3 separate regions of the Homo sapiens genome follow, and all the other regions are linked to region 2. Evidence: fine-mapped expression QTL. A gene starts in region 2. Each other region holds a variant in brackets. All regions are shown on one strand. Distances are between the middles of the regions. Region 1 overlaps GOT2 (glutamic-oxaloacetic transaminase 2). Region 2 holds the start of GOT2 (glutamic-oxaloacetic transaminase 2). Region 3 has its middle 9.6 kb from the start of SLC38A7.

Region 1 (10,028 bases), 28 kb after region 2:
CCCAGGCCGGAGTGCAGTGGCACAATCTCAGCTCACTGCAACCTCCGCCTCCTGGGTTCAAGCGATTCTCCTGCCTCAGGCTCCCCTGAGCTGGGATCACAGGCACCCACCACCATGACTGGCTAATTTCTGTATTTTTAGTAGAGACTGGGTTTCACCACATTGGCCAGGCTGGTCTCAAACTCCTGACCTCAATGGATCCATCCACCTCAGCCTCCCAAAGTGCTAGGATTATAGACGTGAGCCACCGCGCCTGGCCACACATGATATTTAATATAAGACAGAATGGAATAAATGATGACTAAAGGGAGAGCTGTTGATTCTAGTGGGGAGTTAGAGAAGATGTAATGAGGACTGCGGCATGTGAGCTGTGCATTAAAGAGGGGAAAGGGCTTTTTTTTTTGCAAAGGAAATGAAACGGACAAGGAAACTGGGGAGAGATCTGAGTGAGGGCATAGGCGTGGGACGTGCATTATGCAGAACTTGTGTAGAAAGCCCCAAGTTGTTTTCGTGATGAAAACACGAATGTGAGGAGGACTGTGGGAGACAGCCAAGCTGAGAAGGTGGAGCAGATCGTGAAGCACCCTGGTTGATACTGTAAGAAGTCAACACTTGATTCTCCAGGCAACAAGGAGGATGGAGGGGTTTGGCTAAGATGGCTCCACATCTAGCCCTGTTCATGCACTCAATATCTTTGGGATCCAGGCCTCAAAGTGAATGAAGCTGGACGATGGAAACTGTAGGAAATTTAAAATCAGATGCCATAACTGGAGGGGCCAGGGGCTCCTCAGCTCCAGCCAGTAATTATTTTGCTAATACAGTGCTATCGTTTCTCATTTTTCAAGAGAAACTACAGGTTTCAGCTTTTAGGCACAAGTGCCCAATTTAAAAACGTTTCACTGGGTGAAGTAAAACATTACTAGGTCCCATATTTGGTCTTTAATTGGCAGTTTGTGATCTCTCTTCTAACCGTGCATAACATCATTATACAGAGATGGTTTAGGAAAGTGAACACCTAAGAACAGGGAGATAAACTGTAAATGGGAATGTCATTGGTGAGAGCCAAGAATGTCCCAGAGCCATGGGAATGGAGTGGAAAGGGTAGATTCTGAGGAAGGGGAAGGTTGTATTCAGAATCAGGTGATCCCCGTGCACAGTCAGAGGACTACCTTCTCCAGTCCCTCAGACAGAATTTACTCTCCTTGGGGCTTTTAGCATAGCAGTGTCCTATGTGTTTTACATTTTGTGGCCGTATTCCATACTTGGTTTACAGGTTTGGTTACAAGCACCCCTTGCAAGCTTTTGAAGGCAAGGACTATGTCTCAGTCCTCACCACCTAAAATAGCTTGGCTCATTGTAGATTCATAGTACATTGTCTCAATTGTGAAGATGGGAATGTATATTTCATCCATGTCAAAAATAAGGTCATTTTTTTTTTTTGTTTAACCCACAGCTTTTACCTTAATCTTAGTAGGTTTTAGAGTGATTCATTCACTTTTCTTTTTTTTTTTTTTTTTTTTTGAGACAGAGTCTTGCTCTCTCACCCAGGCTGGAGTGCAGTGGCGCCATCTCCGCTCACTGCAAGCTCTGCCTTCTGGGTTCACACCATTCTTCTGCCTCAGCCTCCCCAGCAGCTGAGACTACAGGCACCCGCTGCCACGCCCGGCTAATTTTTTTGTATTTTTATTAGAGACGGGGTTTCACCGTGTTAGCCAGGATGGTCTCGATCTCCTGACCTCGTGATCCGCCCGGCTAATTTTTTTGTATTTTTAGTAGAGACGGGGTTTCACCGTGTTAGCCAGGATGGTCTCGATCTCCTGACCTCGTGATCCGCCCGCCTGGGCCTCCCAAAGTGCTGGGATTACAGGCGTGAGCCACCGTGCCCCGCCCACTTTTCTTAATACAGATGCAATTATGATGGGGTTACATCCCAATAAGCCTGTCATAAGTCAGAAATGCATTTAAGGCCAGGCTTATGTCTGTAATCCTAGCATTTTGGGAGGCCAAGGTGGGAGAATCACTTGAGCCCAGGAGTTCCAGACCAGCCTGGGCAAAATGGGGAGACCCTGTCTCTACAAAAAAAAAAAAAAAAGAAAAGAAAATTAGCAAGGCATGGTGGAATGCACTTGTGGTCCCAGCTACTTGGGAGGCTGAGGCAGGAGGATCACTTGAGCCTGGAAGATTGAGGCTGCAGTGAGCCATGATCATACCATTGTACTATCCAGCCTGGGTGATAGACTGAGACTGGGTGATGGACTGTATCTGAAAAAAAGAAAAAGAAAAAGAAAATGGGCCAGGCGTGGTGGCTCACACCTGTAATCCCGGCACTCTGGGAGGCCTAGGCAGGAGGATTGCTTGAACCTTGGAGTTTGTAACCAAACCGCGCAACATGGCAAAACCCCATCTCTACATTAAAAGAAAATTCATTTAATACACTTAACCTACCAAACATCATAGCTTACCCTAGCATACTTTAAACATGCTCAGAACAGGTATTAAACTACAGTTAAGCAAAATCATCTAACACAAAGCCATTTTATAACAGAGTGCTGAATGTCTCATGTAATTTATTCAATACTGTACTGAAAGAAACAAAATGGCTGTATGGGTACTTAAAGTACGGTTTCTATTGAATGTATATTGCATTTGTGCCATCATGAAGTTGAAAAGTTGTAAGTCAAGGACTGTCTCTACTCAAGTGTGTTAACTGCTTCAGTTGCCTTATGGAAATAGTGTTCCAATATAAAACAGAATGCTATAAAATAGCTTTCTTCCCTGGCCAGTGACAGCGTGTCACTCATTCGTGACCTGAGAATTGAGGCACACTAGGGGACTGCTCAAGGGAGGTAAAAATGCAGTGAACTCCAGCATATCGGTCAGTGCTTAGGCAGAATGAGCTGCATCTCAGGGTTTCTTTACAGGCTGCAAGAAGTGAAAGTCATGGCTGACCGCATCATTGGCATGCGGACTCAACTGGTCTCCAACCTCAAGAAGGAGGGTTCCACCCACAATTGGCAACACATCACCGACCAAATTGGCATGTTCTGTTTCACAGGGCTAAAGCCTGAACAGGTGAGTGATTCTGATTTCTCTGCAGCAGACCAGCTGATCAGTCTTTGCAAACCCGAAGGATTACTTTTTTTTCTTTTTTCTTTTTTATTTAATGTTTTCGGGTTTTTTGTTTTGTTTTGTTTTGTTTTGTTTTGTTTTTGTTTTTGTTTTTGTTTTGAGACAGTCTCGCTCTGAAACCCAGGCTGGAGTGCAGTGGTGCAATCTCAGCTCACTGCAACCTCCACCTCCCAGGGCTTAAGTGATCCTCCTGCCTCAGCCTCCCGAGCAGCTGGGACTAGAAGTGAGTGCCACCACACCTGGCTAATTTTTGTATTTTTTGTGGAGACATAGTTTCGCCATGTTGCCCGGGCTTGTCTTGAACTCCTGGACTCAAGCGATCCGCCTGCCTTGGTCTCCCAAACTACTGGGATTACAGGTGTGAGCCACTGAGCCCAGCCCCAGAAGGATTCTTCATAGATCACCCACCTGTTCAAAATTACCCTAAAAACAGTTAAAACAGTTATTTTGGAGCCCTTTTAGGTAAAAGTATTGTAATACTTTTTAGCATTTATTTTGCTTTTTTTTTTTAGTTGTTTACCTCTCTGTATCCCCCATGAACTCACAAACTTCTAAAGAGCAGAGCTTGTTTTGATCATGTTCATAATCACTGTTGCTTCTCCCAAGAGAGCAACAGGAGAAATAGCTGTTTCATAATTGAATCCTGGCTCTGCTGAATCTAAAGGTGTCTTTTTCCCCATCTGTTTATGCATCAGAATTCATCATCCTACTTTAAAGTAGCTTTTTTTTTTTTCTTTTTTTGAGATGGAGTCTCACTGTGTCGCCCAGGCTGGAGTGCATTGGCGCAATCTCGGCTCACTGCAGCCTCTGCCTCCCAGGTTCCAGGTTCCAGGTTCCAGCTATTCTCCTGCCTTAGCCTCCTGAATAGCTGGGATTACAAGTGTGAGCCACCGCCCCAGCCTTAAAGTAGCTTTTTATTCTTATTTTATTCCAAGCTAACAGCAAATTCTGGGAACAGGTTTTAAGCGAGGAAATAGAGCGTTGGTAAGTTGGCTACTGTGCCATGTCAGGCCGGGGAGAATCCCCTGTACCGGGAAGAGGTACCCAAGTTCTTTCCTCTCTGCAGGTGGAGCGGCTGATCAAGGAGTTCTCCATCTACATGACAAAAGATGGCCGCATCTCTGTGGCAGGGGTCACCTCCAGCAACGTGGGCTACCTTGCCCATGCCATTCACCAGGTCACCAAGTAATGTCCCTGGTGCGAGGAAACAGAGACAACCTTTCTGTCTTCAGCCTCTGCTATTGAGAGCTTCACACAGACAATGAGAGAGGGTGGATGGTGGTGAGTGGATCATTTCTTTCAGCCACAGTGTGT[A/G]ACACTCAGCATTTGAATGTTTCTCAGAAAAGAACATGTAGTGACACAGGGCAGAGGCATCCATGGCTGGCGTCTGGAATATTAAACCAAACTCTCCCCGGTCCTTTTTTCTCCAACTTTTCTCAAAGAGTTTACATGTGCAAGAAAGTCATCGCACCAAAAAACCTGTCAATTATGCCATTGCAATATTTCAGAAGCTTTAACTGAAGTGTCAGGTTCCTCGTGAGAAACAGCACACGTTAGAGGCTTTGAGAGAAGGCCTAGTTCTGTCATGAGTAGTCGGCCTCGTGTCTGTCCTCCCATCTTGGAACAACCTTATCAACAGGCCGCACTGCAGAAATGATGTTTTATGAAAACCAATGAGGCTGCTGCCACTCCAGCAAGGGAAATAATGCAGTTTCCTGTCTTATTTAAGAAAAAGAGAAGGCTCTCTTTTCTCCCTTGTCATTGCCGTTCTTTTCCTTACACGCAAAGATTTTTTAACTATTGCAGATTTTCATCCCATTCTACTGCTTGATTGACCATCAACTCCATCCTATCGAGATTTATTTAAGAATGAAGAACATAATTTTCTGCTGATGCTGTACCCTCACCCTTTTCAGCAAAGAATAGTGGAGAGTAGGAAACTGTACTTTATCTCGGCATCCTCTTGAATGATAGTGCAAGTTTCTCCAGTTGGGATGTTGTCTCTGCCCGGTTGGACCTCCTCCCTTTGTTGAATGTGGTGTGCAGCCTCTCATCTCACACTGTGAGTCCAGCGGCGCAGGGTGGTACCAGGAAAGAGGATATTCTAGGCTTTGCGTGCTGCTAGCTGGGTTCAGGCTTCACCCACTGGAAAGAACCACCATCTGCTCTAACCATGTAGACTTATTGCGGCCTGGTTTCTCTGTTACAATAAAATTACTGTAGACCCAACTACTGTCTACTAAGTTATCTTTTTTCTTTAATGGGAGGAAGGGGTAGGAGTGGGTAAATAAATAAAGGGGTAGGAGTTTGGAATCGTGTAGCTGATCATAAGCCAGTAGATGTATCCACTATTCCAAATATTGGCTGAAGATTCGTCGTTTTCTTCATGTTGCCATTCAGTTTGTCCAGTCCGAAGATGCTGAGAATGTGGGTGTAATCCCTTGGACCTTGTGGGGAACAAGTGGAGTCCCATGAAGGATCCTGTGGATATAGGCAAAGGGTAGAAGGGGTGGAGGAGAAGTGACAACTTCAGTGGTCTATAGGAGCCAAGAAGGTAACGTAAATAAAAAAGTGTTGTGAACTGGATTTAAGTTGATCAGTGGTGATCAACCCTCATCCTCAGCATTGAGGAGCAGTAGTGAAGTGACAGGAGCTGTGAGGATGAACGCCCAAGGTGGTAGGTCTTACATTTTTCAAGAAAAATGGAAATCTTGATTTCTATGGTTGATCTGTTGGTGCTTAAAAGTTGGCAACTGGTTCAATTTTTAAAAAATTATTTGGGCCAGGCATGGTGGCTCACGCCTGTAATCCCAGCACTCTGGGAGGCTGAGGTGGGCAGATCACCTGAGGTCAGGAGTTTGAGACCAGCCTGACCAACATGGAGAAACCCTGTCTCTACTAAAAATATAAAATTAGCTGGGCATGGTGGCGCATGCCTGTAATCCCAGTTACTCAGGAGGCTGAGGCAGGAGAATCGCTTGAACCCAGGAGGCGGAGGTTGCAGTGAGCCGAGATCGCGCCATTGCACTCCAGCCTGGGCAACAAGAGCGAAACTCCGTCTCAAAAAAAAAAAAAAAAAAGGAAAAAAAATGATTTGGAAGCAGGGTGCAGATGGTAGACTGCAAGTCTGTGTCCTCTGATGTAGGTCACATGCCCCTGTCAGCAGACATCCAGCACTGGCACCTGTGTGGCATCAGTCCTGCTTACGGTATTTTGTCCCTTTCATTCAGTGCAAGGAGCCTTTCATTGTGGGAGAGTGACCAGCCAGATAAGCAATGGAGCAGGAGCCAGGCCCAGGGACCCTCCACAGTGTCCCCATGGTTGCTGGGATGGGCAAGCAGGCTCAACTTGTTCTTTCCCCCTTGCCTTCTCCTGAGGGACACACTGCATGGCAGGTCAGGGGTCGCTCTGACTCTTTGCTTCTCTGTGTTCCTGTTACTAGTGGACATTCCAAGGTGGTGAAAGGATATGTGAAAGGACTGGTTCACTGGATGTCTTTATCTGAAAAGGGGAAACAATAGACATATTAGTCCGCTGCTCTGCAAAGGTACTGACTGCCTAAGTTAGGAGAAACTGAAGTTCTCCCTGTCTGGAGCAAAAATGGTTGAAAGTTGGTTGCCAAGACCTCAACTAATTGTGAAAGGAACTTAACCCCCACCCCCTGGTCTCACTCTGTCGCCCAGGCTGGCGTGCAGTGGTGCGATCTCGGCTCACTGCAACCTCCACCTCCCGGGTTGAAGCAATTATCCTGCTTCACCCTCCCAAGTAGCTGGGACTACAGGCGTGTGCCACCACGCCCAGCTAATTTTTTGTATCTTTAGTAAAGACGGGGTTCCACCATGTTGGCCAGGATGGTCTTGATCTCCTGACCTCGTAATCCGCCCACCTCAGCCTCCTGAAGTGCTGGGATTACAGGCATGAGCCACTGCACCCAGCCTGACCTTGTTATTTTTAAACATGGGTACTACCACCTTACACTGGACTAAGTCCCATTCATCATGTGGTGTCTGCAGCTTGATGGTTTTCTGAGAAGGTCAGAACATTGGCCCACAGCCTTTTCCTAGCTCCCTAGTCTGGTCTAAAATGTTAACATTCTCCAATCTGATAGTAGTTTGCCAGCTCAGAGAGAATAGTCATACCTTGGTTTCATTATAATTCAAGGTAGAATAGTTCCCAAATCTAGATCATTTATTTAAAGTACTGGTTCTCTGGCCTCACCTCTTAGGCATTCTGATTCAGCATGTCTAAGAGAAAGCTTGACAATCTATTTTTTTAAATTAAAAGAAAAACTGCAGTTGATTCAAATATAGCTCACCCATAGATCAGCCATGGGGAACTATCAGCCTGAACTGTTTCAGGTATACATCTAAACAACCAAAGTCCAACTTACTCAGCCAACTTGAGAGTTTATTCTAAGCCTTTTTTCTGAATTTTTTTTTTCATAGAAATTACTGGGGGTTTTTTTGTTTTGTTTTGTTTTTGTTTTTGTTTTTTTTTTATGAGACCAGGTCTTGCTATGTTGCCCAGGCTGGTCTCAAACTCCTGCACTCAAACGATCCACCCACCTTGGCCTCCCAAAGTGCTGAGATTACAGGTGTGAGCCACCGCACCCGGCCTATTGGTTTATTTATACCTAATGATAACTGAAAGACCAATTGTTTCTTTTTCAAGATATCTTATAAAAATGTTGAAAACAGTAGTTTTTATTGATAACAGTAGGGTATGCTCATTTTAGAAAATTTTAAATTCCTCAAATGCCTACCATGTGGAGATAACAGTTGTTTGTATTGAATTATCTTCCCTTGGTTTTTCTGTGCAAATATTTACGTGGTAGAGATTGTACTACTAATATAATTTTGGCTGGGCGCAGTGACTTGGGCCTGTACCCAACTACCCAAGAGGCTGAGGTGGGAGGATCACTTGAGCCCCGGAGTTTGAGGCTGCAGTGAACTATGATCTAAATGGAAAGAATGAACTTTGACCCCCTACTTAACAACATATACAAAAGTTTATTCAAGATGCATCACAGACTTAAATGTGGAAAGTGAAACAATAAAGCTTCTAGGAAAAAAAGTAGGCGCAGGCACCATGGCTCATGCCTGTAATCCTAGCTCTTTGGGAGGCTGAGGCAGGAGGGTTGCTTAAGCCCAGGTGTTCAAGACCAGACTGGGCAACATAGTGAGACTCTGTCTCTAAAAAAAAGAAAACAGGGCTGGATGCCTGTAAAAAAGGCTCATGCCTGTAACCGCAACACTTTGGGAAGCCGAGGTGGGCGGATCACCTGAGGGTCAGGAGTTCGAGACCAGCCTGGCCAATGTGGTAAAACCCCGTCTCTACGAAAAAAAAATAAAAATTAGCCGGGCCATGGTGGCATGTGCCTGTAATCCCAACTACTCAGGAGTCTGAGGCAGGAGGATCACTTGAACCCAGGAGATGAAGGTTGCAGTGAGCTGAGATCGCCATCATTGAACTCCAGCCTGGTCAACAAGAGTGAAACTCCGTCTTAAAAAAAAGGGGGAGCTGGGCGCGGTGGCTCACTCCTGTAATCCCAGCACTTTGGGTGGCCGAGGCAGGTGGATCACGAGGTCAGGAGTTCAAGACCAGCCTGACCAACATGGTGAAACCCCATCTCTACTAAAAATACAAAAATTAGCCGGGTGTGGTGGCACACGTCTGCAATCCCAGCTACTCAGGAGGCTGAGGCAGGAGAATTGCTTGACTTGAATCCGGGAGGCGGAGGTTGCAGTGAGCCAAGATTGTGCCCCTGCACTCCAGCGTAGGCGACAGAGTGAGACTCCATCTCAAAAAAAAAAAAAAAAAATCTTCAAAACTTTAGGCAAATGTTTCTTAAACAAGACATAAAAAGCACTGACCATAATTAGACTTCATCAAAATCAAGGATTTTTGTTCCACAAAGGAAACCAATAAAGTGAAAAAGCAGTCTTCAGATGGAGAATATATTGACAGCACATATAAATAACACCAAAATCCAAGCCAGGAGTGGTGGCTCACACCTGTAATTCTAGCACTTTAGGAGGCTTAGGCAGGTGGATCTCTTGAGCCCAGGAGTTTGAGACCAGCCTGGGCAACATGGCAAATCCCCATCTCTACTGAAAATACAAAATTAGTCGGAAGTGATGGTGCATACCTGTAGTCCCAGCTCCTCAGAAGGCTGAGGTAGGAGGATCGCTTGAGCCCAAGGAAGTCGAGGCTGCAGTGAGCCATGATTGTGCCACTGCACTCCATCCTGGGCGACAGAGTGAGGCCCTGTCTTAAAAAAATAAAACTAGAATCCAGATATATCCAGAACTATTCCAAATCAATAAGACAATCCAGTTTTTAAAATGAGCAAGAGACTTGAACAGGCAAGTCACAAAAGAGGATATACAAATTTGAATTTATGCATATTCAAAGCATATGAAAAAGTGTTCAGTATCATTCATCAGGGAAACACAAAACCTCTATTAGACGCACCCACCTAAATGGCTAAAATTAAGACAAACACCACCAAGACTGGTGAAGATGTGTAACTAGAACTCTCACTTTGCCAGTGGAGTAAATACTGTTGGAATTTACTAAAGCTACACATAGGCTGTCTTAGTCCTTTTGTGTCGCTATTAACCCTTTCCCATTTAGAAAAAAAAAAAAACGCAGCTTGCTGCCAGCGCTCATTTGAATTTTACATAAACACACTCTTTGAGGCTGAACCAAATCTGATTGATTTTCAATGTGAAAACATAAAAAACTGTTCTTGGAGTTATTTCTAAAAAGAACTAACATCAGAATCATCAGAATTGTCTATTTTTGAAAAATCAGATTCATCAAATGAATCTTTGGCCAACAACTGTTTGAGAATGATGTTAACATCATGCATAGGAATGCTACATTTTCTAGGATTT
Region 2 (9,731 bases):
GCGTGTATAGTGAAAAACTTAAGTCCTGTTTGAAACAGCTCATCTTCCTAGATGTTTAAAAATGCACAAAAATATGTTAAAAGGGCTAAAGTAATACCCTTCTTTTTTTTTTTTTAAACATTATAGGAGTGGTTGCATTTTGGGGACAGAATTGTTAAAGTTGATGTCTTGGAGGGTATGCTGACTGCTCATTGGGTGGTGGTGGGTGATGGGGAGGAGGAAGTTTGCAGAGAGAAGGGTTCTATGCCCATGAGTTAGACTACTTCAGATGGCCTAACCATTGTTCTATATGCACATTTTAGTTATTATTGCGTGCATTAAATAATAAAATAAGTTATAATGCTCAAAGTATGTTAAAGTAGAGGAAGTAAAATAATCCCTTTATAAATGTACTCTTGTTCGTTTTTACAAACACCTGTCTTCTGGGAGAGACCTTTGTCCCTAGACCTCTTGGAGCTAGACATAGTCCTGTACTTAGTCCCTGGAATGGTGGAAGGAGAAGAGAAAGGGTGGAGGGAAGGGCTCTTCGGTAAATATCTAGAAGATGGTTTTAAATTAAAATCATAGGTCTACATGTGCATTTTTAGTAAATTAGCTGTGTTTCTTGAGGACAAAGTTCATTGTTTTGCAACATCTAAGCTTTATAGATGTCCCGAGGTGACAGTGTAAGACAGGAGTATTCAATCTTTTGGCTTCCTGGGCCACACTAGAAGAACTGTTTTGGGTCACACATAAAATACACTAACAATGATGACAGCTGAAGAGCTAGAGGAAAAAAAAATCACAAAAAAACTCATAATGTTTTAACAAAGTTTATGATTTTTTTTGAGATGGAGTCTTACTCAAAAATCAAAAACCTGATGATTTTTTCAAATGAGCATTTACTCCATATTGTAAAATACAGAGAAATGGAGACATGGTGGTTGACCCTGAGGGGGAAGGAGTGCTGTCATTTGCTCCTGAGACTGTCAGAGCAGGTGGACAGCTTAAAGGACCCGTGGCTCAGGACCAAAACCTGAAATGCAGTATTCATGAATCCAAGTAATTAATAGTAGGGTTGGAAATATGAGGTGCGTGGGTGAAAAAGCCCAGGGCAATGGCCAGAAGGGGCAGGTCCACAGAAAAGGGGGGTGGAGGGAGACTGGGGAGGTAGACAGCCAGGACAAGGAAGATAATCAGGAGGGGCATAGGCCATGTCTTTTCCTTCCTTCCTCCTCCACATACCACATTACCTCAGTCCTTTAAAGTTCAGATCAAATGTCACCTCCCCCATGAAGGCCTCCCTGATTTCCACAGCTGACATTGAGCCTTTCCTCCTCTGTGCTCCCCTGGCTCACTCTCTCCTCCATCTGATCTTTGCCACACTCTGCCTCCTCCTATTTTAACTTCCCCCCCACCCCTCGCCCCCTGACAGCGTCTCACTCTGTTGCCCAAGCTAGAGTGCAGTTGCACAATCTCGGCTCACTGCAACCTCTGCCTCCCAGGCTCAAGCAATCCTCCCACCTCAGCCTCCCAAGTAGCTGCAACTACAGGCGCACACCACCACACCTGGCTAATTCTTGCATTTTTTTTTGTAGAGACAGGGTCTCACTATGTTGCCTAGACTGGTCTAGACCGGTCCTGGACTCAAGCAATTTTCCTGCTTCAGCCTCCCAAAGTGCTGGGATTACAGGCATGAGCCATTGCACCTGGCCCATATTTTAACTCTTTTAAAAGTTAACTGGTGTACGTCCTTTGCACTCCAGCTGCTTTGAATGGAGATGTGATGGATGAAGCTATGGCTACTATCTTGGACCACTGGGAGTCAACCATACTTTAGGGAGGGCGGGGCGAGGATCTGGAAGGACTTGACTTCCTAAGGACTCTGGGTCAGAAATGCCACCCCAACCCTGGACTGCCTATCTCCAGATTTTTATGTGAGAAAGATATATATGTTAAGTCAATTATTCGGGGTCTCTGTTAACTGCAGACAACCCCAATTTTAACTAAAGCATTGGGAATTATTTCTGACTCCTTTTCTACCTTTCTCTGCATCTAATCACCAAATCCATCTGATTCTACCTCCTTGATATGCCCCAGATCTGTAACCTTTTCTACATCACTGTTACCTCTACCTGAACTCAGGCAATCAGAATTTCTTGCCTGGATTCCTGTGTAAACCTTCCTTCTACCTAGTCTCCCCACTGTAGGGTTGTTCCTTCCAATCCACCTTTCATATCAGGAACTCAAATTAGCATATATACATATGTATATGTGTGTATATATATATATGTATATGTGTATATGTATGTATATGTGTGTATATATATGTATATGTGTATATATATACACACACAAAAAACTATATGCACACACACACATATACACACATACAGAAAAGTACAGAATCCAATGTGACAAATACTCAACCCCAAAATGGTGACAATTGTTAATCTGATCTGTATTTTTTCTTTTTTTCTTTTTTTTTTTTTTTTTTGGAGTCAGAGTCTTGCTCTGTGCCCAGGCTGGAGTGCAGTGGCACAATCTAGGCTCACTGCAACCTCTGCCTCCCAGGTTTAAGCGATTCTCCTACCTCAGCCTCCTGGGTAGCTGGGACTATAGGCACGCGCCACCACATCTGGCTAATTTTTGTATTTTTAGTAGAGACGGGGTTTCACCATGTTGGCCAGGCTGGTCTCTAATTCTTGACCTCAGGTGATCCGCCCGCTTTGGCCTCCAAAGTGCTGGGATTACAGGCGCGAGCCACCGTGCCTGCCTCTTATCTATAATTTTTATGAAGCTAATATGACAAAGTTGTCTCCTTCCCTCCACAAGGGCAAATACGCTCATGCCCTCCTAATCCTGTATTGAACCATATCCTTGGCATATTTTTTCAAACTTTTACATACATTTATGAATAAATGTATGTTATGGTTTTGTGTATTTTAAAAATATTGTCTAAGTGGCACCATATTATATGTATAATTCTATAGCATGTTTATGTTTTTGAGGTCTATCCATGGTGACATCTATTGAGTTCATTCACGTTAGTAGTTCTGTAATGCTCCATCATGAGACTGTAGCAGAACATCCATCTCTTCCTCCATCGATGGGCGACTAGGTTGTTCCCTGTTTTGCTTTTATAAACAATGCTTTACTGACAGCCTTAAAAATGTGTGAGAAGATCTCTAGGGTTTATACCTGGACATGTAATTGTTTTGGGAATAGTAGTTGTTATGTGTTGAAATGTGCCCCCAAAAAAGATACGTTTAAGTTCTAACCTGGGGAACCCATTAATGTGATCTATTTGAAAATAGGGTCTTTACAGATGTAATCAGGCGAAGATGAGGCAATTAAGATGCACCCTACCCCAATATGATTGGTGTCCTTAAAAGAAGAGAAGAGACAGACAGGGAGAGAACACTGTGTGACACCAGAGGCAGAGATTAGTGATGCCTCTAACAGCATACGAATGCCCAGGAGTGCAGACAATTGCCAGAAGCTAGGAGAAGCATGGAACAGAGTCTCTGAGACCCCATAAGGCACAAACCCTGCCAATACCTTGATTTTTGATTTTGGGCCTCCAGAATTGTGAGTGAATAAATTTCTGTTGTTTTAAACCACCCAATTCATGGGGATTTGTTACAGCAGTCTGAGCAAACTGATGTACTGGTATGTTTGAAATTCTTGTTTCTTGGTGCTGTAAAGAAATAGCACTTGAACATAAATTTAATTTCCTCAGCAAGGCCATCTTTATACTTTCGGCAGAAAGGGTACACTCGACAGCAGTTTTGCCATGAGAGTACACCAAACAAAGGAGACAAGGTCACTTATAACCTGATACATCCACCTTGCTGCTGTGTCCGGTTTTCATTGGCTGGAACAGGTCCTCACATTTTGTATTTGTTCTGATTGGCTAGCAACTTAGAACTTTTTAAAAGAGGCAAAGGCAGAGGAGAGCAAAGGAAGGAGGAAGTAACTTGTGGAATGCTGAGAAAGGTAAAAACACCTTCAAATAAGGAAGAGGAACAGGCTATGACCTAATGCTTGCTTGGACCAGTATAAGCATGCCAGGGCAAATATTTAGGCTAAATGGTGGCAGCTAGGAACATAAAGTACATTGATTTCTTTATTATGGCTAGCAGATATTTAAGACTGTTAGTACAGGTCTTTGAATACATTTTGTTTTTAAGAGAAGTTACTATTTATTTCTAATTAGACAGGGAGGAAAGTCTTTAAAGAAGAATCTCTACTTTACTTTTCACAGGTAGAATCCCAAGTCATGGCCTATAGGCGCATAGGTCAAGGTCATATGAGAGCATAAGGGTCTGAGACAGTAAATTGGAGCTGGGCCGGAAGGACCTAGAATGTGGCCCTAAGTAGGGGTTTAGACTTTACCATTCAGGCAACGTGGAGCCACAGAGGAGATATTAAATTGCCAAGGTACACAGTTCTATCTCGGTTTTATTTTATTTATGTATGTATTTATTTATTTATTTAGAGCCAGCGTCTCACTCTGTTACCCAGGCTGGAGTGCAGTAGCGCAATCCTGGCTCACTGCACTCTTTTTTTTTTTTTTTTTTTGAGTCGGAGTCTGGCTCTGTTGCCCAGGCTGGAGTGCAGTGGCGCGATCTTGGCTCACTGCAAGCTCCGCCTCCCGGGTTCATGCCATTCTCCTGCCTCAGCCTCCCGAGTAGCTGGGACTACAGGCGCCCGCCACTATGCCCGGCTACTTTTTTTTTGTATTTTTTTAGTAGAGAGAGGGTTAGCCAGGATGGACTCGATCTCCTGACCTCGTGATCCGCCTGCCTCGGCCTCCCAAAGTGCTGGGATTACAGGCGTGAGCCACCGCGCCCGGCCTGCACTCTTGAATTAATGGGCTCAAGCAATCCTCCCTCCTCAGCCTTCTGAGTAGCTGGAACAGGCACGCAACACCACATCCTGCTAATTTTTTTTTATTTTTTTAAGAGATGGGGGTTTCATCTTGTTACCCAGGCTGGTCTCAGACTCTTGTTTTCATGCTATCCTCCTGCCTCAGTCTACCAAAGTGTTGGGTTTACAGGCATAAGCCAACACACCGGGCCCCTACCTTGGTTTAAGAGACGAGTATCAGAGAAATAGACTACACATGAGAAAGACTCGTTTGACTTGTGGATGTGTCTGAAATTCATTTGCTTTTTCCTTTAAAACCGATTCATTTCCTTCAAAACCGATTCATTTCCTTCCACAAACAGTTATCAGGATTTGACATACACGAGTTTGTCATTAATGACCATGGGTTATTTTGTGCTTACTAAATCAGGCCCTGTTTTAGACATAATCTGCTAATCTTATTAATCCTCACAACTGCCCCACAAAATACACATGCGACCCTCTCCATAAAAGGGATAAGGAAGCCAGGTGCGGTGGCTCATGCCTGTAATCCTAGCAGTCTTGGGAGACTGAGACGGGCAGATCACTTGAGATCAGGAGTTTGAGACCAGACTGGTCAACATGGTGAAACCCCCGTCTCTACTAAAAATACAAAAATTAGCCGGGCGTGGTGGTGGCACCTGTAACCCAGCTACTCGGGGAGCTGAGGCAGGAGAATCGCTTGAACCTGGGAGGCAGAGGTTGTAGTGAGCCGAAATCACGCCACTGCACTCCAGCCTGGGTGACAGAGTGAAACTCCATCTCAAAAAAAAAAAAAAAAAAAAAAGGGTGGGGGATAAGGAAACATTCAGGAACGACGTGACATGACTTGTGCTTAGGGAAACTATTAGGGTTGAAAGTAAGGCCACCTTGGGTCCTAATGGCTGTAAGGCATCAGACAAAATACGTCAACTATGTCAGCCTACATTTTCTCATCTTTCAAACTGCCATAACAGCAGCCACCTCTTCGGCCGGCCAGGCCTGGCCCAGCTGGATTAAATGAATGAAGCGCAGCAAGGGCTGGGCGTAGGTAAACTGTGCAGTCATCCTCTTCCACGACCTCCGCTGAGCCCACGCCGCTCCGCCCGCCGGCCGCCAGGGATCGCTGTGACGTGGCTCGGGCCCAGCACGCGGCCGCTCTGGCCCAGGGAAGTCCCTGTCCTTACCTTCAGCAGGAGCCGGTTCCCTGTGTGTGTGTCCGCTCGCCCTCTGCTCCGTCCTGCGGCTGCCCACTGCCCTCCTACGGTCCACCATGGCCCTGCTGCACTCCGGCCGCGTCCTCCCCGGGATCGCCGCCGCCTTCCACCCGGGCCTCGCCGCCGCGGCCTCTGCCAGAGCCAGGTAAGCCAAGGGAAACGGAGATGGAGCCAGGGCGATGGCCCTGCCCCGCCGAGCTGCGAGCACCCCAGGACATTCACCCCTCCCGGCCCCCAAATACACACTGTCACTCACACGCACACACACACACTTTTCTGCCACCCCCTCGGCTTTCCCTTACTGGGGACTGAGGATTGAGCGTCCGTGCCCCACAGTGATCCTCAGGATCCCACATCCCTCTGGTCCCCGCACTGGGCCCTGCAGGAAGGCGTGCAACGCAATCCCTAGGGAAAGGAAGTGTGGCCCTCGGCGGTTGCCGGACTCCCATTCAGTGGGAGGGGTGCGGATAGTACTGGGGCAGCGGCGCCGGGTAACGACCGTGCCCTTGATAGGGTGCCCTGGGGGCGGCGGGCGCACCTGTCCTGGCCCCCGGCCCGCCCGAGTCGGTGGGCCGGCGGCGGCTGGCTGCCGCGTGTGTGCCCTGGGCGGGAAGAGCGCGAGAGGAAGGTTTCCGGGGCGCCGGCATTCGGGCCTCGCTTTCCTTCCCGCACCTGCGACCTTGGCGTGCGGCATTCTCCTGACCTTGCGACCCCCCGAGGTCCCTGTGACCCCGGGGCCCGTTTGGCCTTTGCTTGGGAAAGGGTCGAGGTGTAGTGTGTCTCTTTTTTTGTTTTGTTTTGTTTTTTCCTTATTGCCCCTAAGGAGGTCCGGTTGCAGGGAGGCTATCAATCTTCCTCTCCATCTCCCTGTGCTCTTTCATTCAGTAAATATTTCGTAACTGCAGTTTCTCAGAGCCAGGCTCTGGACCAGATGCCAACGATACAACTGTGAACAAGGCGAGGGAAGGACAATGACAAATGGTCATTGCTCAAAAAATGACAAACGTAATTTCGTACTGTGGCGTGTATAATAGTATGGAGGGAAATTTCAGAGCTTGAAACGAGCTCTAGTAATTCATTCCCAGTGGAGACCGGAGCCAGAAGATTAATTCAACTCAAGAAGCCGATTTGGAGCACTCTCCTTAAGCACTACCTTAATAAGGAACTGAGTTTTAAAACCACCCCCAAGCAGGTATTAACTGCAAGGAGCAAAGCGTAGCTTGGCCTTTCGTTTGAATGTATGCTCTGTGTCTTTCAGCCAGCAGAACTATCTGTCCTTTCCAAGGCCCCACAGCCTTGGCAGTACAGTTTTGCCCAGGCTTCGCACTTTTTTCTCTTCCTGACTTGGCTCCTTCCTGGCCCACTGTCAACGTGTGCTCTTTAAGTCTGCCTACCTAGTGGGCCAGAGCCAGGAGGAGTTATTTATGCAACAAATTTGGAAAACCAAAGGAGTGCTTAAAATTTCCGTCAAGAGAAAGTATGTTTCCCTATTGCAGTAATCTTAAAATAATACCTTGTTTTATGGATTTGGCTAGATCACCTGAAGCTCTAGTGCTTGGTGAAAATCCCTTGGGGTCAGGGTTAGTCATTCTTTCAGTTTGAGAGTCTGACTCATTTTTCTTTTCTGTATTTTTCTTACTAGAATGTAAGTTCCATGAGAGCGGAGACTTTACCTACTTTATATTCACTGTTACATCTCAGCACTATTAACAGTTGCTGGCATGTCTCTTATATTGGATATTTTTATTTTAAGCCCTGATTTTTCACGTAATGCAACGGAAACAAATACAGTATGACATTTTAATGTTGTATCTTAGATCAAAATCTGAACATAGGCTGGTCCAAGTGTAATGGTGTTTACAACTAATTGATCATAACCAGTTACAGATTTTATTGTTCCTTCTCTCGACTAATCTTACACAGGGGAACCACAGTGCTGCAAAATATGTACCAAAAAAAATTCCCTTTTTTTTTTTCTTTAAATACAGGGTCTCACTGTGTTGCCCAGGCTGGAGTGCAGTGGCACAATCATGGCTCACTGCAGCCTGACCTTCCAGGCTCAAGTGGTCCTCCTGCTTCAGCCTCCCAAGTAGCTGGGACTGCAGGCATACACCACCACACCCAGCTAATTTTTTATTTTTTGTAGAGACAGAGTCTCCCTGTGTTGGTCTCAGACTCCTCCCACATCAGCCCCGCAAAGCGCTGGGATTATAGGCTAAGCAACCCCACCTGACCAGAAAATAAATTCTTGAAATAGTTGAGCACCTAATGTTGAGGAATTACTCTTCAGATTTAAATAATGATACCTGATTAGGTGACAGAATCAGATGCCATATTTGGCATGAAGGTTAACTCTTCAGGCAAGATCAGACTTCCCTCCTTACACTGTGGAAGTGATCTTTACCTAGCTCCAAATGGTAAAAGTGGAAAATACTTAAACTGAATTCATCGACATTTCTATTTAAATGGCTCATTCTAATACAATAAAACCTTGTCTGTTGTTATTCTGAAGAACTGAGGATTTATCCAATGGCATACTTGGAACTCTTTGTAAATATGTGGAACTCTTTGTAAGTTCAAGTGTATCATTTAGCTAAACACTGCGAATAAAACTTTCTCTTGTTGACTTGTACTGTAAATGTATAGTGACATGAGATCAGACATAGTTGCAGTTCAATGAAGAAAAAAAAAGATGCTAATGTATTTTGATTTATAATGATTTGCTTTTAATTATTTAATTCTGATTATTTACTTTTTGGTGAAATAACTGAGCAGGTCTCGTGAGACTTTAAAAATGCAGTGTGCAACTGTGGTACCATAACCATTGGTTAAAAGATCACAGACCAGGCACAGTAGCTCACACCTGTAATTCTAGCACTTTGGGAGGCTGAGGCAGGTGGATTGCTTGAGCTCGGGAGTTCTAGACCAGCTGGGCAACATGGCAAGACCCCGTCTCTACATAAAATACAAAAATTAGCCGGGCATGGTGATGTGCACCTGGAGTCCCAGCTACTTGGGAGGCTGAGGTGGGAGGGTCGCTCGAGCCTGATCGCTTGAGAGGTGAAGAGTTGCAGTGAGCCCGCTGATCACGCCGCTGCACTCCAGCCTGAGCAACAAAGCAAGACTGTGTCTCAAAAAAAAAAGATCACAGCTGTGCTATTGTCTCTGCCATTTTTAGCTCTGTGATTGTGGGCAAGCTAATTAACTTCCCTTCTGATTTTAAAGTAAGAAGAATGTGAGGAAAAGCAGTTTAAAAACTGTAAAACTTTAAGTAGGCTTAAGCTCCAGGGAAATTACAATGCGTTTCGATTGGAAAGGCTTACCTGAATACTTGGTACCTAACCTCTCTTGGATGACCAGTCAATATTGCTCAATGTTTGAGGCTTTGTGCCTGTATCCAAAATGTACTGATAGAAATCACTTTCTAGGTCACAGGTTATCAGCATGAGTTTTGCCCCTAGAACACTCCTATTTTCATCTACTCGATTCCTTTAAAAACATCAGAGTTCTTACAATATGTGTGTAGTCTTTACCATTTTAAGAAATGGAATAATGAAAGGCATGGAGGAGTTGAAAGATGGTTACTAATGTGGGGCTAATCAAATTGAGTATTCCCTCTAGGCCAGGTGCCGTGGCTCACACCTG
Region 3 (10,028 bases), 41 kb after region 2:
AAGGAAAAAAAACAATAAAAAGAGAATAAGTGAGTTGGCAGAGCTTAGGAAATAAGCGGAAGATAAAAACAAAACCACATGGTTTCGTTTTAAAACAGTAAAAACTTGCTGTCAAGTCCCCAGTGAGGTGGTAGGTTTGGGGAATCTGCAGACAGGAAGGCCATTCTCTAACTGGATGCAGTAGCATAGGCCTGTGGTCCCAGCTATTTGGGAGGCTGAGGCAGGAGGATCACTTGGGTCCAGGAGTTTAAGTCCAGTCTGGGTAACATAATGAGACCTTGTCTCTAAAAAAGAATTTTTTTTAATTAAAAAATATAGGCCAGGCGTGGTGGCTCACACCTATAATCCCAGCACTTTGGGAGGCCAAGGCAGGAGGATCACTTGCCTGGGCAACATGGTGAAACCACAACTCTACTAAAAATACAAAAATTAGTTGGGTGTGGTGGCACACGGCCTATAGTCTCAGCTACTCAGGAGGCTGAGGTGGGAGGATCGCTTGAACCTGGAAGCTGGAGGTTACCGTGAGCCGAGATCGCACCATGGCACTTCAGCCTGGGGGACAGAGAGACTCCATCTCAAAAAAGATTTTTGTAAAAAGTATATGTACACTAAAGAAAAAAAATGAAGGCCATTCTCTAAATGTCCAAATCTAAAAAAGGAAGTTACTCAATATCCAAAGATCTTTTCAGACCAATTCCTGGAGCAATGTGAAGGAATTGCAGCTGAGAATTTCTGTCAGGCTTATATTTAACAATCCCTTACCTTTATTTACATGGCACTTAAAAATGGACATGATCGGCCAGGCGCGGTGCCTCATGCCTGTAATCACAGCACTTTGGGAGGCCTTGGGAGGCCGAGGCAGGCAGATCACTTGAGGTCAGGAGTTCGAGACCAGCCTGGCCAACATGGTGAAACCCCATCATTACTAAAAACACAAAAATTAGCCAGGTGTGGTGGCGGGCACCTGTAATCCCAGCTACTTGGGACGCTGAGGCAGGGAGAATCGCTTGAACCCAGGAGGCGGAGGTTGCAGTGAGCCGAGATGGCACCATTGCACTCCAGCATGGCCAACAGTGAGACTCCGTCTCAAAAAAAAAAAAAAAAAAAGTACATGATCTTATTTGATTATTTGATGCCCATAGCAACCTTCAATAAATATTTTTGAGCAAGTACTGTGGCAGGTCATTTGTGCTTAGAACTCGAAGGCACCCTTTATTGTTTTTCCCCATCTTGGCTTTGACACTATAGACTTTACCAATTAGGGCTCCTTTGGTTGCAAGTGCCAAAAGCCAGCTTGACTGGCACAAGAATAAAAAGGGAATTACCTCATGTACATGTACTGGAGAACAGCCCAAGGCTGATATAACGGTAGCTCTAGCTCTCTAGCTGGTAGGTCCAACAGCCAGAGCCAAGTGCTCTATGTTGCCAAGAATCTGCCTCCATTTGTCAGCTTCACTTTTTTTGCTGCTGGTGCTGGCACTGGCTTCATTCTTCGTCTTCTGGCACTGGCTTCATTCTTCTTCTTTTTTTTTTTTATTTTTATTTTTTGAGATAGAGTCTCGCTCAGATACCCAGGCTGGAGTGATTGCAGTAGTGCAATCTTGGCTCACTGCAACTTCTGCCTCCCAGGTTCAAGCGATTCTCCTGCCTCAGCCTCCCAAGTAGCTGGGATTACAAGTGCCTGCCACCACACCCGGCTAATTTTTTGTATTTTTAGTAGAGACGGGGTTTCGCCATGTTGGCCAGGCTGGTATCGAACTCCTGACCTCGAGTGATCCACCTGCCTCGGCCTCCCAAAGTGGTGGGATTACAGGCGTGAGCCACAGCGCCTGGCGGGTACTGGCTTCATTCTTGAGAAGGCCATCCTCTCAACAGTGAGAAGATACTCACTAGCAGCTCCAGGAGTTTTTAATAACTCCACTCCCTCTCAAAAAAAAAAAAAAAAAAGAGAAAGAGAGAAAGAAAAAAAGCTTCTCTTTCTCAATTTCAACAAATGTCTGAAGACCTATTCTAAGTTGGTCCAGTTTAGGATATTCCACAGCAGATGCAAAAGCATAATGGAAGGCCTGGAAGCAAGTTAGAGCTTAAAAATTGGAGTAGCAAGAGATCTGTCTAGCAGGGCAGGCAGAGGCCACACCACCAAGTGCATTATGTCTTCTTAAGGAATTACTGGATCCTGTAGGCAAAGCGGTTTAAGGAACAATGTCATCTGCTCCATCTCAATTCGGTTGCATCAATATGAACATTGATCCCCATCCAAACTCTTACTCTAAACTGGAGGAAGTGGAAAATAAAGAACAATTCTTGGCCAGGCGTAGTGGCTCACACCTGTAATCCCAGCACTTTGGGAGGCCGAGGCAGGTGGATCACCTGAGGTCAGCAGTTCGAGACCACCCTGGCCAACATGGTGAAACCCTGTCTATATTAAAAATCCCAAAAATTAGCCGGGTGTGGTGGCGGGCGCCTGTAATCCCAGCTACTCGGGAGGCTGAGGCAGGAGAATCACTTGAACCTGGGAGGTGGAGGTTGCAGTGAACCAAGATCGCACCACTGCACTCCAGCCTGGGCAACAAGAGCAAAAATCCATCTAAAAAAAAAATAGAATGATTCTTATGAGAGCATTTTTGAAATGGCACAATGTGGAAGAGAGAATCTTCTCTTCCATAAAAGCAATGAGAATACTGTCAAAAATTGCCAAAATCAACATTCTGGGAATGAAGCAAAGGCTTCCAACAATCCCAGGAGAGTTTATTCAAGAAAAATGACAACCTCAGTAAGAACGGCAAGACTTGTAGCATTTAACGCCCTATTCCCATCCCCCTCCTCCCAGCTCCATGGTAGCCTTAAAAACCAAAAGACTCAAAACTGGTGTCAGGGACCAGTGCGGTAGCTCATGCCTGTAATCCCAGCCCTTTGGAAGGCTGAGGCAGGCGGATCTCTTGAGCTCAAGAGTTTGAGACCAGCCTGGGCAACACAGTGAAACCCCATCTCTACTAAAAATACAAAAATTAGCTGGGTATGCAGGTGCACACCTGTATTCCTAGCTACTCAGGAGGCTGAGGCATGAGACTCACTTGAACTGGGAGGCGGAGGTTGCAGTGAGCCGAGATCTTTCCACTGCACTCCAGCCCGGGTGACAGAGCAAGAGTTGGTTTCAAAAAAACTAAGAAAGAAAAAAAAATAACTTCAAAAGAAAAAAGCTGGGGAATGAATTGTCTATAGAGGCCTTTAAAAAGTTTTGAGTGGCTCACACCTAAAATCCCGACATTTTGGGAGACAAAGGCAGGAGGATCACTTGAGCCCATGAGGTCAAAGCTGCAGTGAGCCATGATAATGCCACTGCACTCAAGCCTGGATGACAGAGTGAGATCCTGTCTCAATAAGTAAGGACCAGGCGCAGTGGCTCACAACTGTAATCCCAGTGCTTTGAGAAGCCAAGGCAGGCAGATACTTGAGGTCAGGAGTTCAAGACCAGCCTGGCCAACATGGTGAAAGCCAGTCTCTATGAAAAAATGCAAAAAAATTAGCTGGGCATGATGGCGCACACCTGTAGTCCCAGCTACTCGGGAGGCTGAGGTGGGAGAATTGCTTGAACCGGGAGGGGGATATTGCAGTGAGCCAAGATTGTGCCACTGCACTCCAGGCTGGGCAACAGAGTGAGACTCTGTCTCAAAAAAAAAAAAAAAGAAGTAAGTAAGTAAAAGTTTGTCATTCTCCTGGAAAACTAGAAAACCATGAACAGGCACAGGCTGTGCACATGTCCAGGTAAGATCTAAGAACATCCTAATCTCTCACTTCTGGCTGGCCTTGAGGCTCTGTGCAAGCAGAAAGTGAAGTCCAGGACAGAGGGATAAACTGCCAACCAGAGAATTAAAATCAAACGGGCTGGGATACTTACTGGTTCAAGGCATTTAAGGAAATCTATCAAATTCACTAAACTAACTCAGAGGAGACTTCAGTGGCCACACACAGCAAAGAATACAGACTTTAAAGAATTAGTCCAGGAAGGTCACTACAGAAAAGGTAGCAGCAACAAACTCCAATTTTTGGATTTCCATATTATATTATTTTTCAATGTCTAGTCTTCAAAAACATTATGAAAAATGTAAAGAAATGGGAAAGTATGGTCCATACATAGGGAAAAAAGCAGTCAATAGAAACTGTCCCTGAGGAAGCCCAAGCCCAGGCATTAGACTTACTAGACAAAGACTTGGAATCACATAGGCAAAGAGTGAAAGGAAATTATGTCTGAACAACTACAGAAAAGTATGAGAACAGCGTCCTGTCATATAGAGACTATCAATGAATAGATATTATTAAAAAGACCCAAATAGAAATTCTGGAGTTAAAAAGTACAGTAATAACTGAAATTAAAAATTTAATACAAGGGCTCAATAGTAAATTTGTGCTGACAGAAGAATCACTGAACATGAGGATACATCAATTGAGATTATCCGGCCTATGGAAGAGAAAGAAAAAAAATGAAGAAAAATGAGGGCTGGCTGTACCTGTAATCCCAGCACTTTGGGAGGCTGAGGAGGGCAGATCACTTGAAGCCAGGAGTTCCACACCAGCCTGGCCAACAAGGTGAAACCCCGTCTCTACTAAAAATATGGAAATTAGTCGAGCATGGTGGCATGTGCCTGTAATCCCAGCTACTCAGGAGGCTGAGACATGAGAATCACTTGAACCCAGGAGAGGGAGGTTGCAGTAAGCCAAGATCACAACACTGCACTCCGGCCTCGGTGACTGAACCAGACTGTCTCAAAAAAAAAGAATGAAGAAAAATGAACAGAATTTCAGAGACCTGTGAGACACCATCAGGCATACCAACATATACATAATGGCTGTCTCAAGAGAGCGAGAAGGGAGCAGAAAGAATATTTGAAGAAATAATGATGGAAAACTTTCCAAAGTTGAGAAAAACATTATCTACACATCCAAGAAACTCTAAGATAATCTTTTTTTATCTTTTTTTTTTTCCTTGAGACGGAGTCTCACTTTGTTGCCCAGGCTGGAGTGCAGTGGCGCAATCTCGGCTCACTGCAAGCTCCGCCTCCCAGGTTCACGCCATTCTCCTGCCTCAGCCTCCCGAGTAGCTGGGACTACAGGCGCCCGCCACCACGCCCAGCTAATTTTTTGTATTTTTAGTAGAGACGGGGTTTCACCATGTTAGCCAGGATGGTCTCGATCTCCTGACCTCGTGATCCGCCCACCTTGGCCTCCCAAAGTGCTGGGATTATAGGCGTGAGCCACCGCGCCCGGCCTAAGATAATCTTAAAGAGATCCATACCTAGAAACATCATAAACTATCCAAAGTCAAAGAGAGAAATTTGAAAGCAGCAAGAGAAGGAACACATACCGGGCTCCTCAGTGAGCTTAACAACTGGTTTCTCATCAGAAACCATGGAGGCCGGAGGCAGTGAGGAGACACATGCAAAGTGCTCAAAGAAAAAGACCATAAATTAAGAATTCTGCATCCAGCAAAACTATCCTTCAAAAACAGAGAAATTAAGACATTCCCAGATGAAAACAGAGAAAATTGTTGCTAGCAGATCTGTCCTATAAGAAATATTCAAGGAAATCCTTAAGGCTGAAATAACAGGACACTAGACAGTAATTTGAATGAAGAAATAAAGAGCACCAGTAAAAGTAACTACATAGTAAATATTAAAAGTAGTACAAATGCATTTTTTTGTGTATAACACTTTTCTTGTGTTCCCTACTTATTTTTTATTTTTTAAAACACAGTCTTGCTCTGTCCCCCAGGCTGGAGTACAGTGGTGCAACCTCAGCTCACTACAACCTCTGCCTCCGAGGCTCAGCAGTTCTCCCGCCTCAGCCTCTCCAGTAGCTGGGACTACAGGTGCACACCCCCATACCCAGCTAATTTTTTTTTTTTTTTTTGGTAGAGATGGGGTTTCACCTTGTTGCCCTGGCTGATCTCAAACTCCTGGGCTTAAGTGATCCACTCATATCCACCTCTCAAAGTGCTGGGATGACAGGCATGAGCCATCACACCTGGCCATGCTCTCTCATTTAAAAGGCAACTGCATAAAGTAAGAATTATAAAACTATGTTGATGGAGCCAAGCTCAGTGGCTCATGCCTGTAATCCCAGCACTTTGGGAGGCCAAGGTGGGC[AG/G]ATAATTTGAGGTCAGGAGTTTGAGAGCAGCCTGGCCAACATGGTGAAACCCTGTCTCTACTAAAAATACAAAAATTAGGTATTTTTAGTGGTAATGCATGCCTGTAGTCCCAGCTACTCAGGAGGCTGAGGTGGGAGAATAGCTTGAACCCGGGAGACAGAGGTTGCAGTGAGTCAGCATTGTGCCACTGCACTCCAGCCTGCATGACAGAGTGAGACCCTCTGTCAGAAAAAGAATTTTTTTAATTTAACAGTAAAACTATGTTGATGGGTTTATAATGTATATAAACTCTTGTCATACTGAAGTAACATATAGGGGAAGAGAACAAAAGGATATAGAAGCAAAGATTTGGAACCAAGTGAATTAAATTGGTATTAATTCTAACTAGATTGTTGTACTAACATTAATTATAATCCACAGGGCAACCACTAAGAAAATCACTCAAAACTGTATATAGTAAATGTCTTAGTCCATTTTGAGTTGCTGTAACAGAATACCACAGACTGGAGAATTTATAAGCAATAGAAGTTTATTTGGCTCATGGTTCTAGAGACTGGGAAGTCCAAGAGCATGGTGCTGCCATCTGGTGAGGGCCTTCATGCTGAGTCATCCCATGGCAGAAGGTGGAACACTTATTTTTATTTTTATTTTTATTTTTATTTTAAGACAGGATCTCGCTCTGTCATTCAGGCTGGAGTACAGTGGCAGGATCATAGTTCACTGCAGCCTCAAACTCCTGAACTCAAGCAATCCTCCTGCCTCAGCTTCCTGAATAGTTGGGACTACAGGCATGAGACAGCATGCCTGGCTACTTTTTCTTTTCTGTAGAGACAGCTATGTTCACTGGGCTGGTCTTGAACTCCTGGCCTCAAGTGAGGCCTACCTCAGCCTCCCAAAGTGCTAAAAATCACAGGTGTGAGCCACCGTCCGCAGTCCAGAACTTGCTTCAGTAATAAGCCCAATCTCATGATAACTAACCCACTCCCACAATAATGATATTAGTCCATTCATCAGGGCAGAGCGCTCATGACCTAATCACCTCTTATGTGGCCTCACCTCCCAACACTGTTGCATTAGGTATTAAGTTTCTGACACATGAATTTTGGGGGACATATTCAAATGATAAAAGTAAAATATCACAAGGGAATAAAATGATAGACTAGAAAATATGTACTTAACACAAAATAAGACAATAATGGAGGAACAGAGGAATAACAACAACAACAACCAAAAGACATATAGAAAACAAACAGCACGATGGCAGATGTAAAGCCTACCTTACTAGTAATTACATTAAATGTAAATGAATTAAACACTACAATTAAAAGACAGATACTAGCAGAAGGGATTTTTTTATTTAAAAGATCCAACTACATGCTGTTGACAAAAGACAATCTTTTTTTTTTTTTTTTTTTTTTGAGATGGGGTCTTGCTCTGTCACCCAGGCTGGAGTGCAGTGGCGTGAGCACAACTCATTCCAGTCTCAAACTTCCTGGGCTCAAGCAATGCTCCCATCTCATCTTCCTGAGTAGTTGGGACCACAGGCATGTGCCACCACACCTGGCTAATTTTTTTAATTTTTAGTAGAAATGAGATGTCACTATGTTGCCCAGGCTGGTCTCAAACTACTGAGTTCAACAATCCTCCTGCCTCAGCCTCCAAAAGTGATTGGATTATGGGCATGAGCCACTGCTCCCAGCCTCATACTTTCAAGAATGGATATAACAACTAGGCAGAAGGTCAACAAGAAAAGAGAAGGCTTCAACGATACCATAAATCAACCAGCTACACCTAATAGACAATCTATAGAACACTTGACCCAACAAGAGCAGAATATGCAGTCTTCTCAAATGCACATGGAACATTCTCCAGAGTAGCCCATACATTAGGCCATAAAACAAGCCTCCATAAACATAAAAGGACTGAAATCACACAAAGTATGTTCTCCGACCACAGTGGAATGAAACTAGGAATCAATCACAAAAGGAAATTTGGGAAATTTATAAATACATGGATGTTGAACAATATACTACTGAATAGCATCAGTTAAAGAAGAAATCACAAGGGAAAATAGAAAATATTTTAATGAAAATGAAAACACATATCAAATCTTCTGGGAAGTAGTTAAAGCAGTGCGTAGCTATAAATGCCTGTGTTAAAAAAAGAAGAAAGATGTTGGCCAGGTGCGTTGGCTCATGCCTGTAATCCAAGCAGTTTGGGAGGCCAAGGCAGGTGGATCACCTGAGGTCAGGAATTCGAGACCAGTCTGGCCAGCGTGGTAAAACCCCATCTCTACTAAAAATACAAAAAATTACCAGGCGTGGTGGCACGTGCCTGTAATCCCAGCTACATGGGAGGCTGAGGCAGGAGAATCACTTCAACCCAGGAGGCAGAGGTTGCAGCGAGCCGAGATCGCACTACTGCACTCCAGCCTGTGCGACAAAGCGAGACTCCGTCAAAAAAAAAAAAAGAAAGAAGAAAGATCTTAATTCAATAACCTAATGTTCCATCTTAAGAAACTGTAAATAAAAGATCAAATTAAACCCAAAGCAAGCAGAAGAAAAGAAAATAATAAAAACTAGAGCTAAAATACAGGAAACACAATAGAAAAATAGAGAAAATCAACAAAATAAAAAAATTGTTTCTTTTTAAGAATCAATACAACTGACAAAGCTTTAACTACACTGACCAAGAAAGAGAAGACTCATATTGCTAAAATCAGGAATGAAATAAAAGCCATTAATACTGCCCTTATAGAAATAAAAAGGATTATAAGAGAATACTATGAAAAATATATGCCAACAAGCCAGATAACCTACATTAAATGGACAAATTCCTAGAAAAACACTAACCCAAACTGGCTAGGCGTGGTGGCTCACACCTGTAATCCCAGCACTTTGGGAGGCCAAGGCGGGCAGATCACTTGAGGTCAGGAGTTCGACACCAGCCTGGCCAACATGGCAAAATTCCATCTTTACCAGAAATACAGAAAATTAGCCAGGTGTGGTGGCACATGCCTGTGGTCCCAGCTACTTGGGAGGTGGGAGGATCACTTGAGCTCAGGAGGCAAAGGTTGCAGTTAGCCAAGATCGTGCCACTGCACTCCAGCCTGGGTGACAGAGTGAGACCCCATCTCAAAGAAAAACACTACCAAAACTGACTCAAAGAGAAATAGAAAATTTGAATAGACTTACAATTAAGAGATTGAATGAAGAATCCAAAGACTTCCCACCAAGAAAAACTGAGGATTTGACAGCTTCACATAGACTACACCATCACCAAGAAATATTAATCCCAGGAATGCAAAATTGATTCAACATAGGAAAATCAATGTACATACCACATCGATAAAATAAAGTAGAAACATCACATAATCATCTCAATAGAAGCAGAAAAAAAACCCCACCATTTGACAAAATCCAACACCCATTCATGATAAAAAACACTCAACACACTAGGAATACACAGGAAATTCCTACCCTGATAAAAGGCATCTACAAATAATCCACAGGCAACATCATACTTAATAATGAACCGCTGAATGATTGTCTCCTGAAACAAGGAACAAAACAAGGATGTCCACTCTCATCACTTCATTCAACATTGTACTGGAGGTTCTGGTACAGTCAAGGCTAGAAAATAAAAGGAATCCAGATTAGAAAGGAAGATATAAAATTATCTCTATTTACAGGTTTTATAATCTTATGTTGAAGATTCCACTAATAAAACTATTAGAGCTAGTAAATAAGTTCAACAGAATTGTAGGGTGTAAGATCAATATACAAAACAGTTGTAGGAGTAGCACAGTGTCTCACACCTGTATTCCTAGCACTTTGGGAGGCTGAGGTGGAAGGATTGCCTGAGCCCAGGAATTCAAGACTAG

The links. PIP is the estimated chance that this variant, and not a neighbour inherited with it, causes the effect.
Region 1: its variant is fine-mapped to the expression of GOT2 in tibial artery (GTEx, PIP above 0.99). The same link has a PIP of 0.9 or more in lung.
Region 3: its variant is fine-mapped to the expression of GOT2 in whole blood (TOPMed, PIP 0.98).

The regions. Positions count from the first base shown.
Region 1 is chr16:58,702,461-58,712,488 of GRCh38, reverse strand. GOT2 (glutamic-oxaloacetic transaminase 2) reads left to right here. Exons shown (of 10, transcript NM_002080.4): 9 at 2,922-3,072; 10 at 4,196-5,358. The coding sequence ends at 4,318. Among named protein-coding and RNA genes, the nearest start is that of SLC38A7, 23 kb to the right of the region's middle. The variant A/G (reference allele first, on the strand shown) is at 4,444.
Region 2 is chr16:58,730,640-58,740,370 of GRCh38, reverse strand. GOT2 (glutamic-oxaloacetic transaminase 2) reads left to right here and starts at 6,055. Exons shown (of 10, transcript NM_002080.4): 1 at 6,055-6,231. The coding sequence starts at 6,143. RefSeq lists enhancers at 5,931-6,010, 5,710-6,328 and silencers at 6,451-6,540, 6,641-6,730.
Region 3 is chr16:58,689,347-58,699,374 of GRCh38, reverse strand. No RefSeq gene overlaps it. Among named protein-coding and RNA genes, the nearest start is that of SLC38A7, 9.6 kb to the right of the region's middle. RefSeq lists a silencer at 873-1,039. The variant AG/G (reference allele first, on the strand shown) is at 6,144.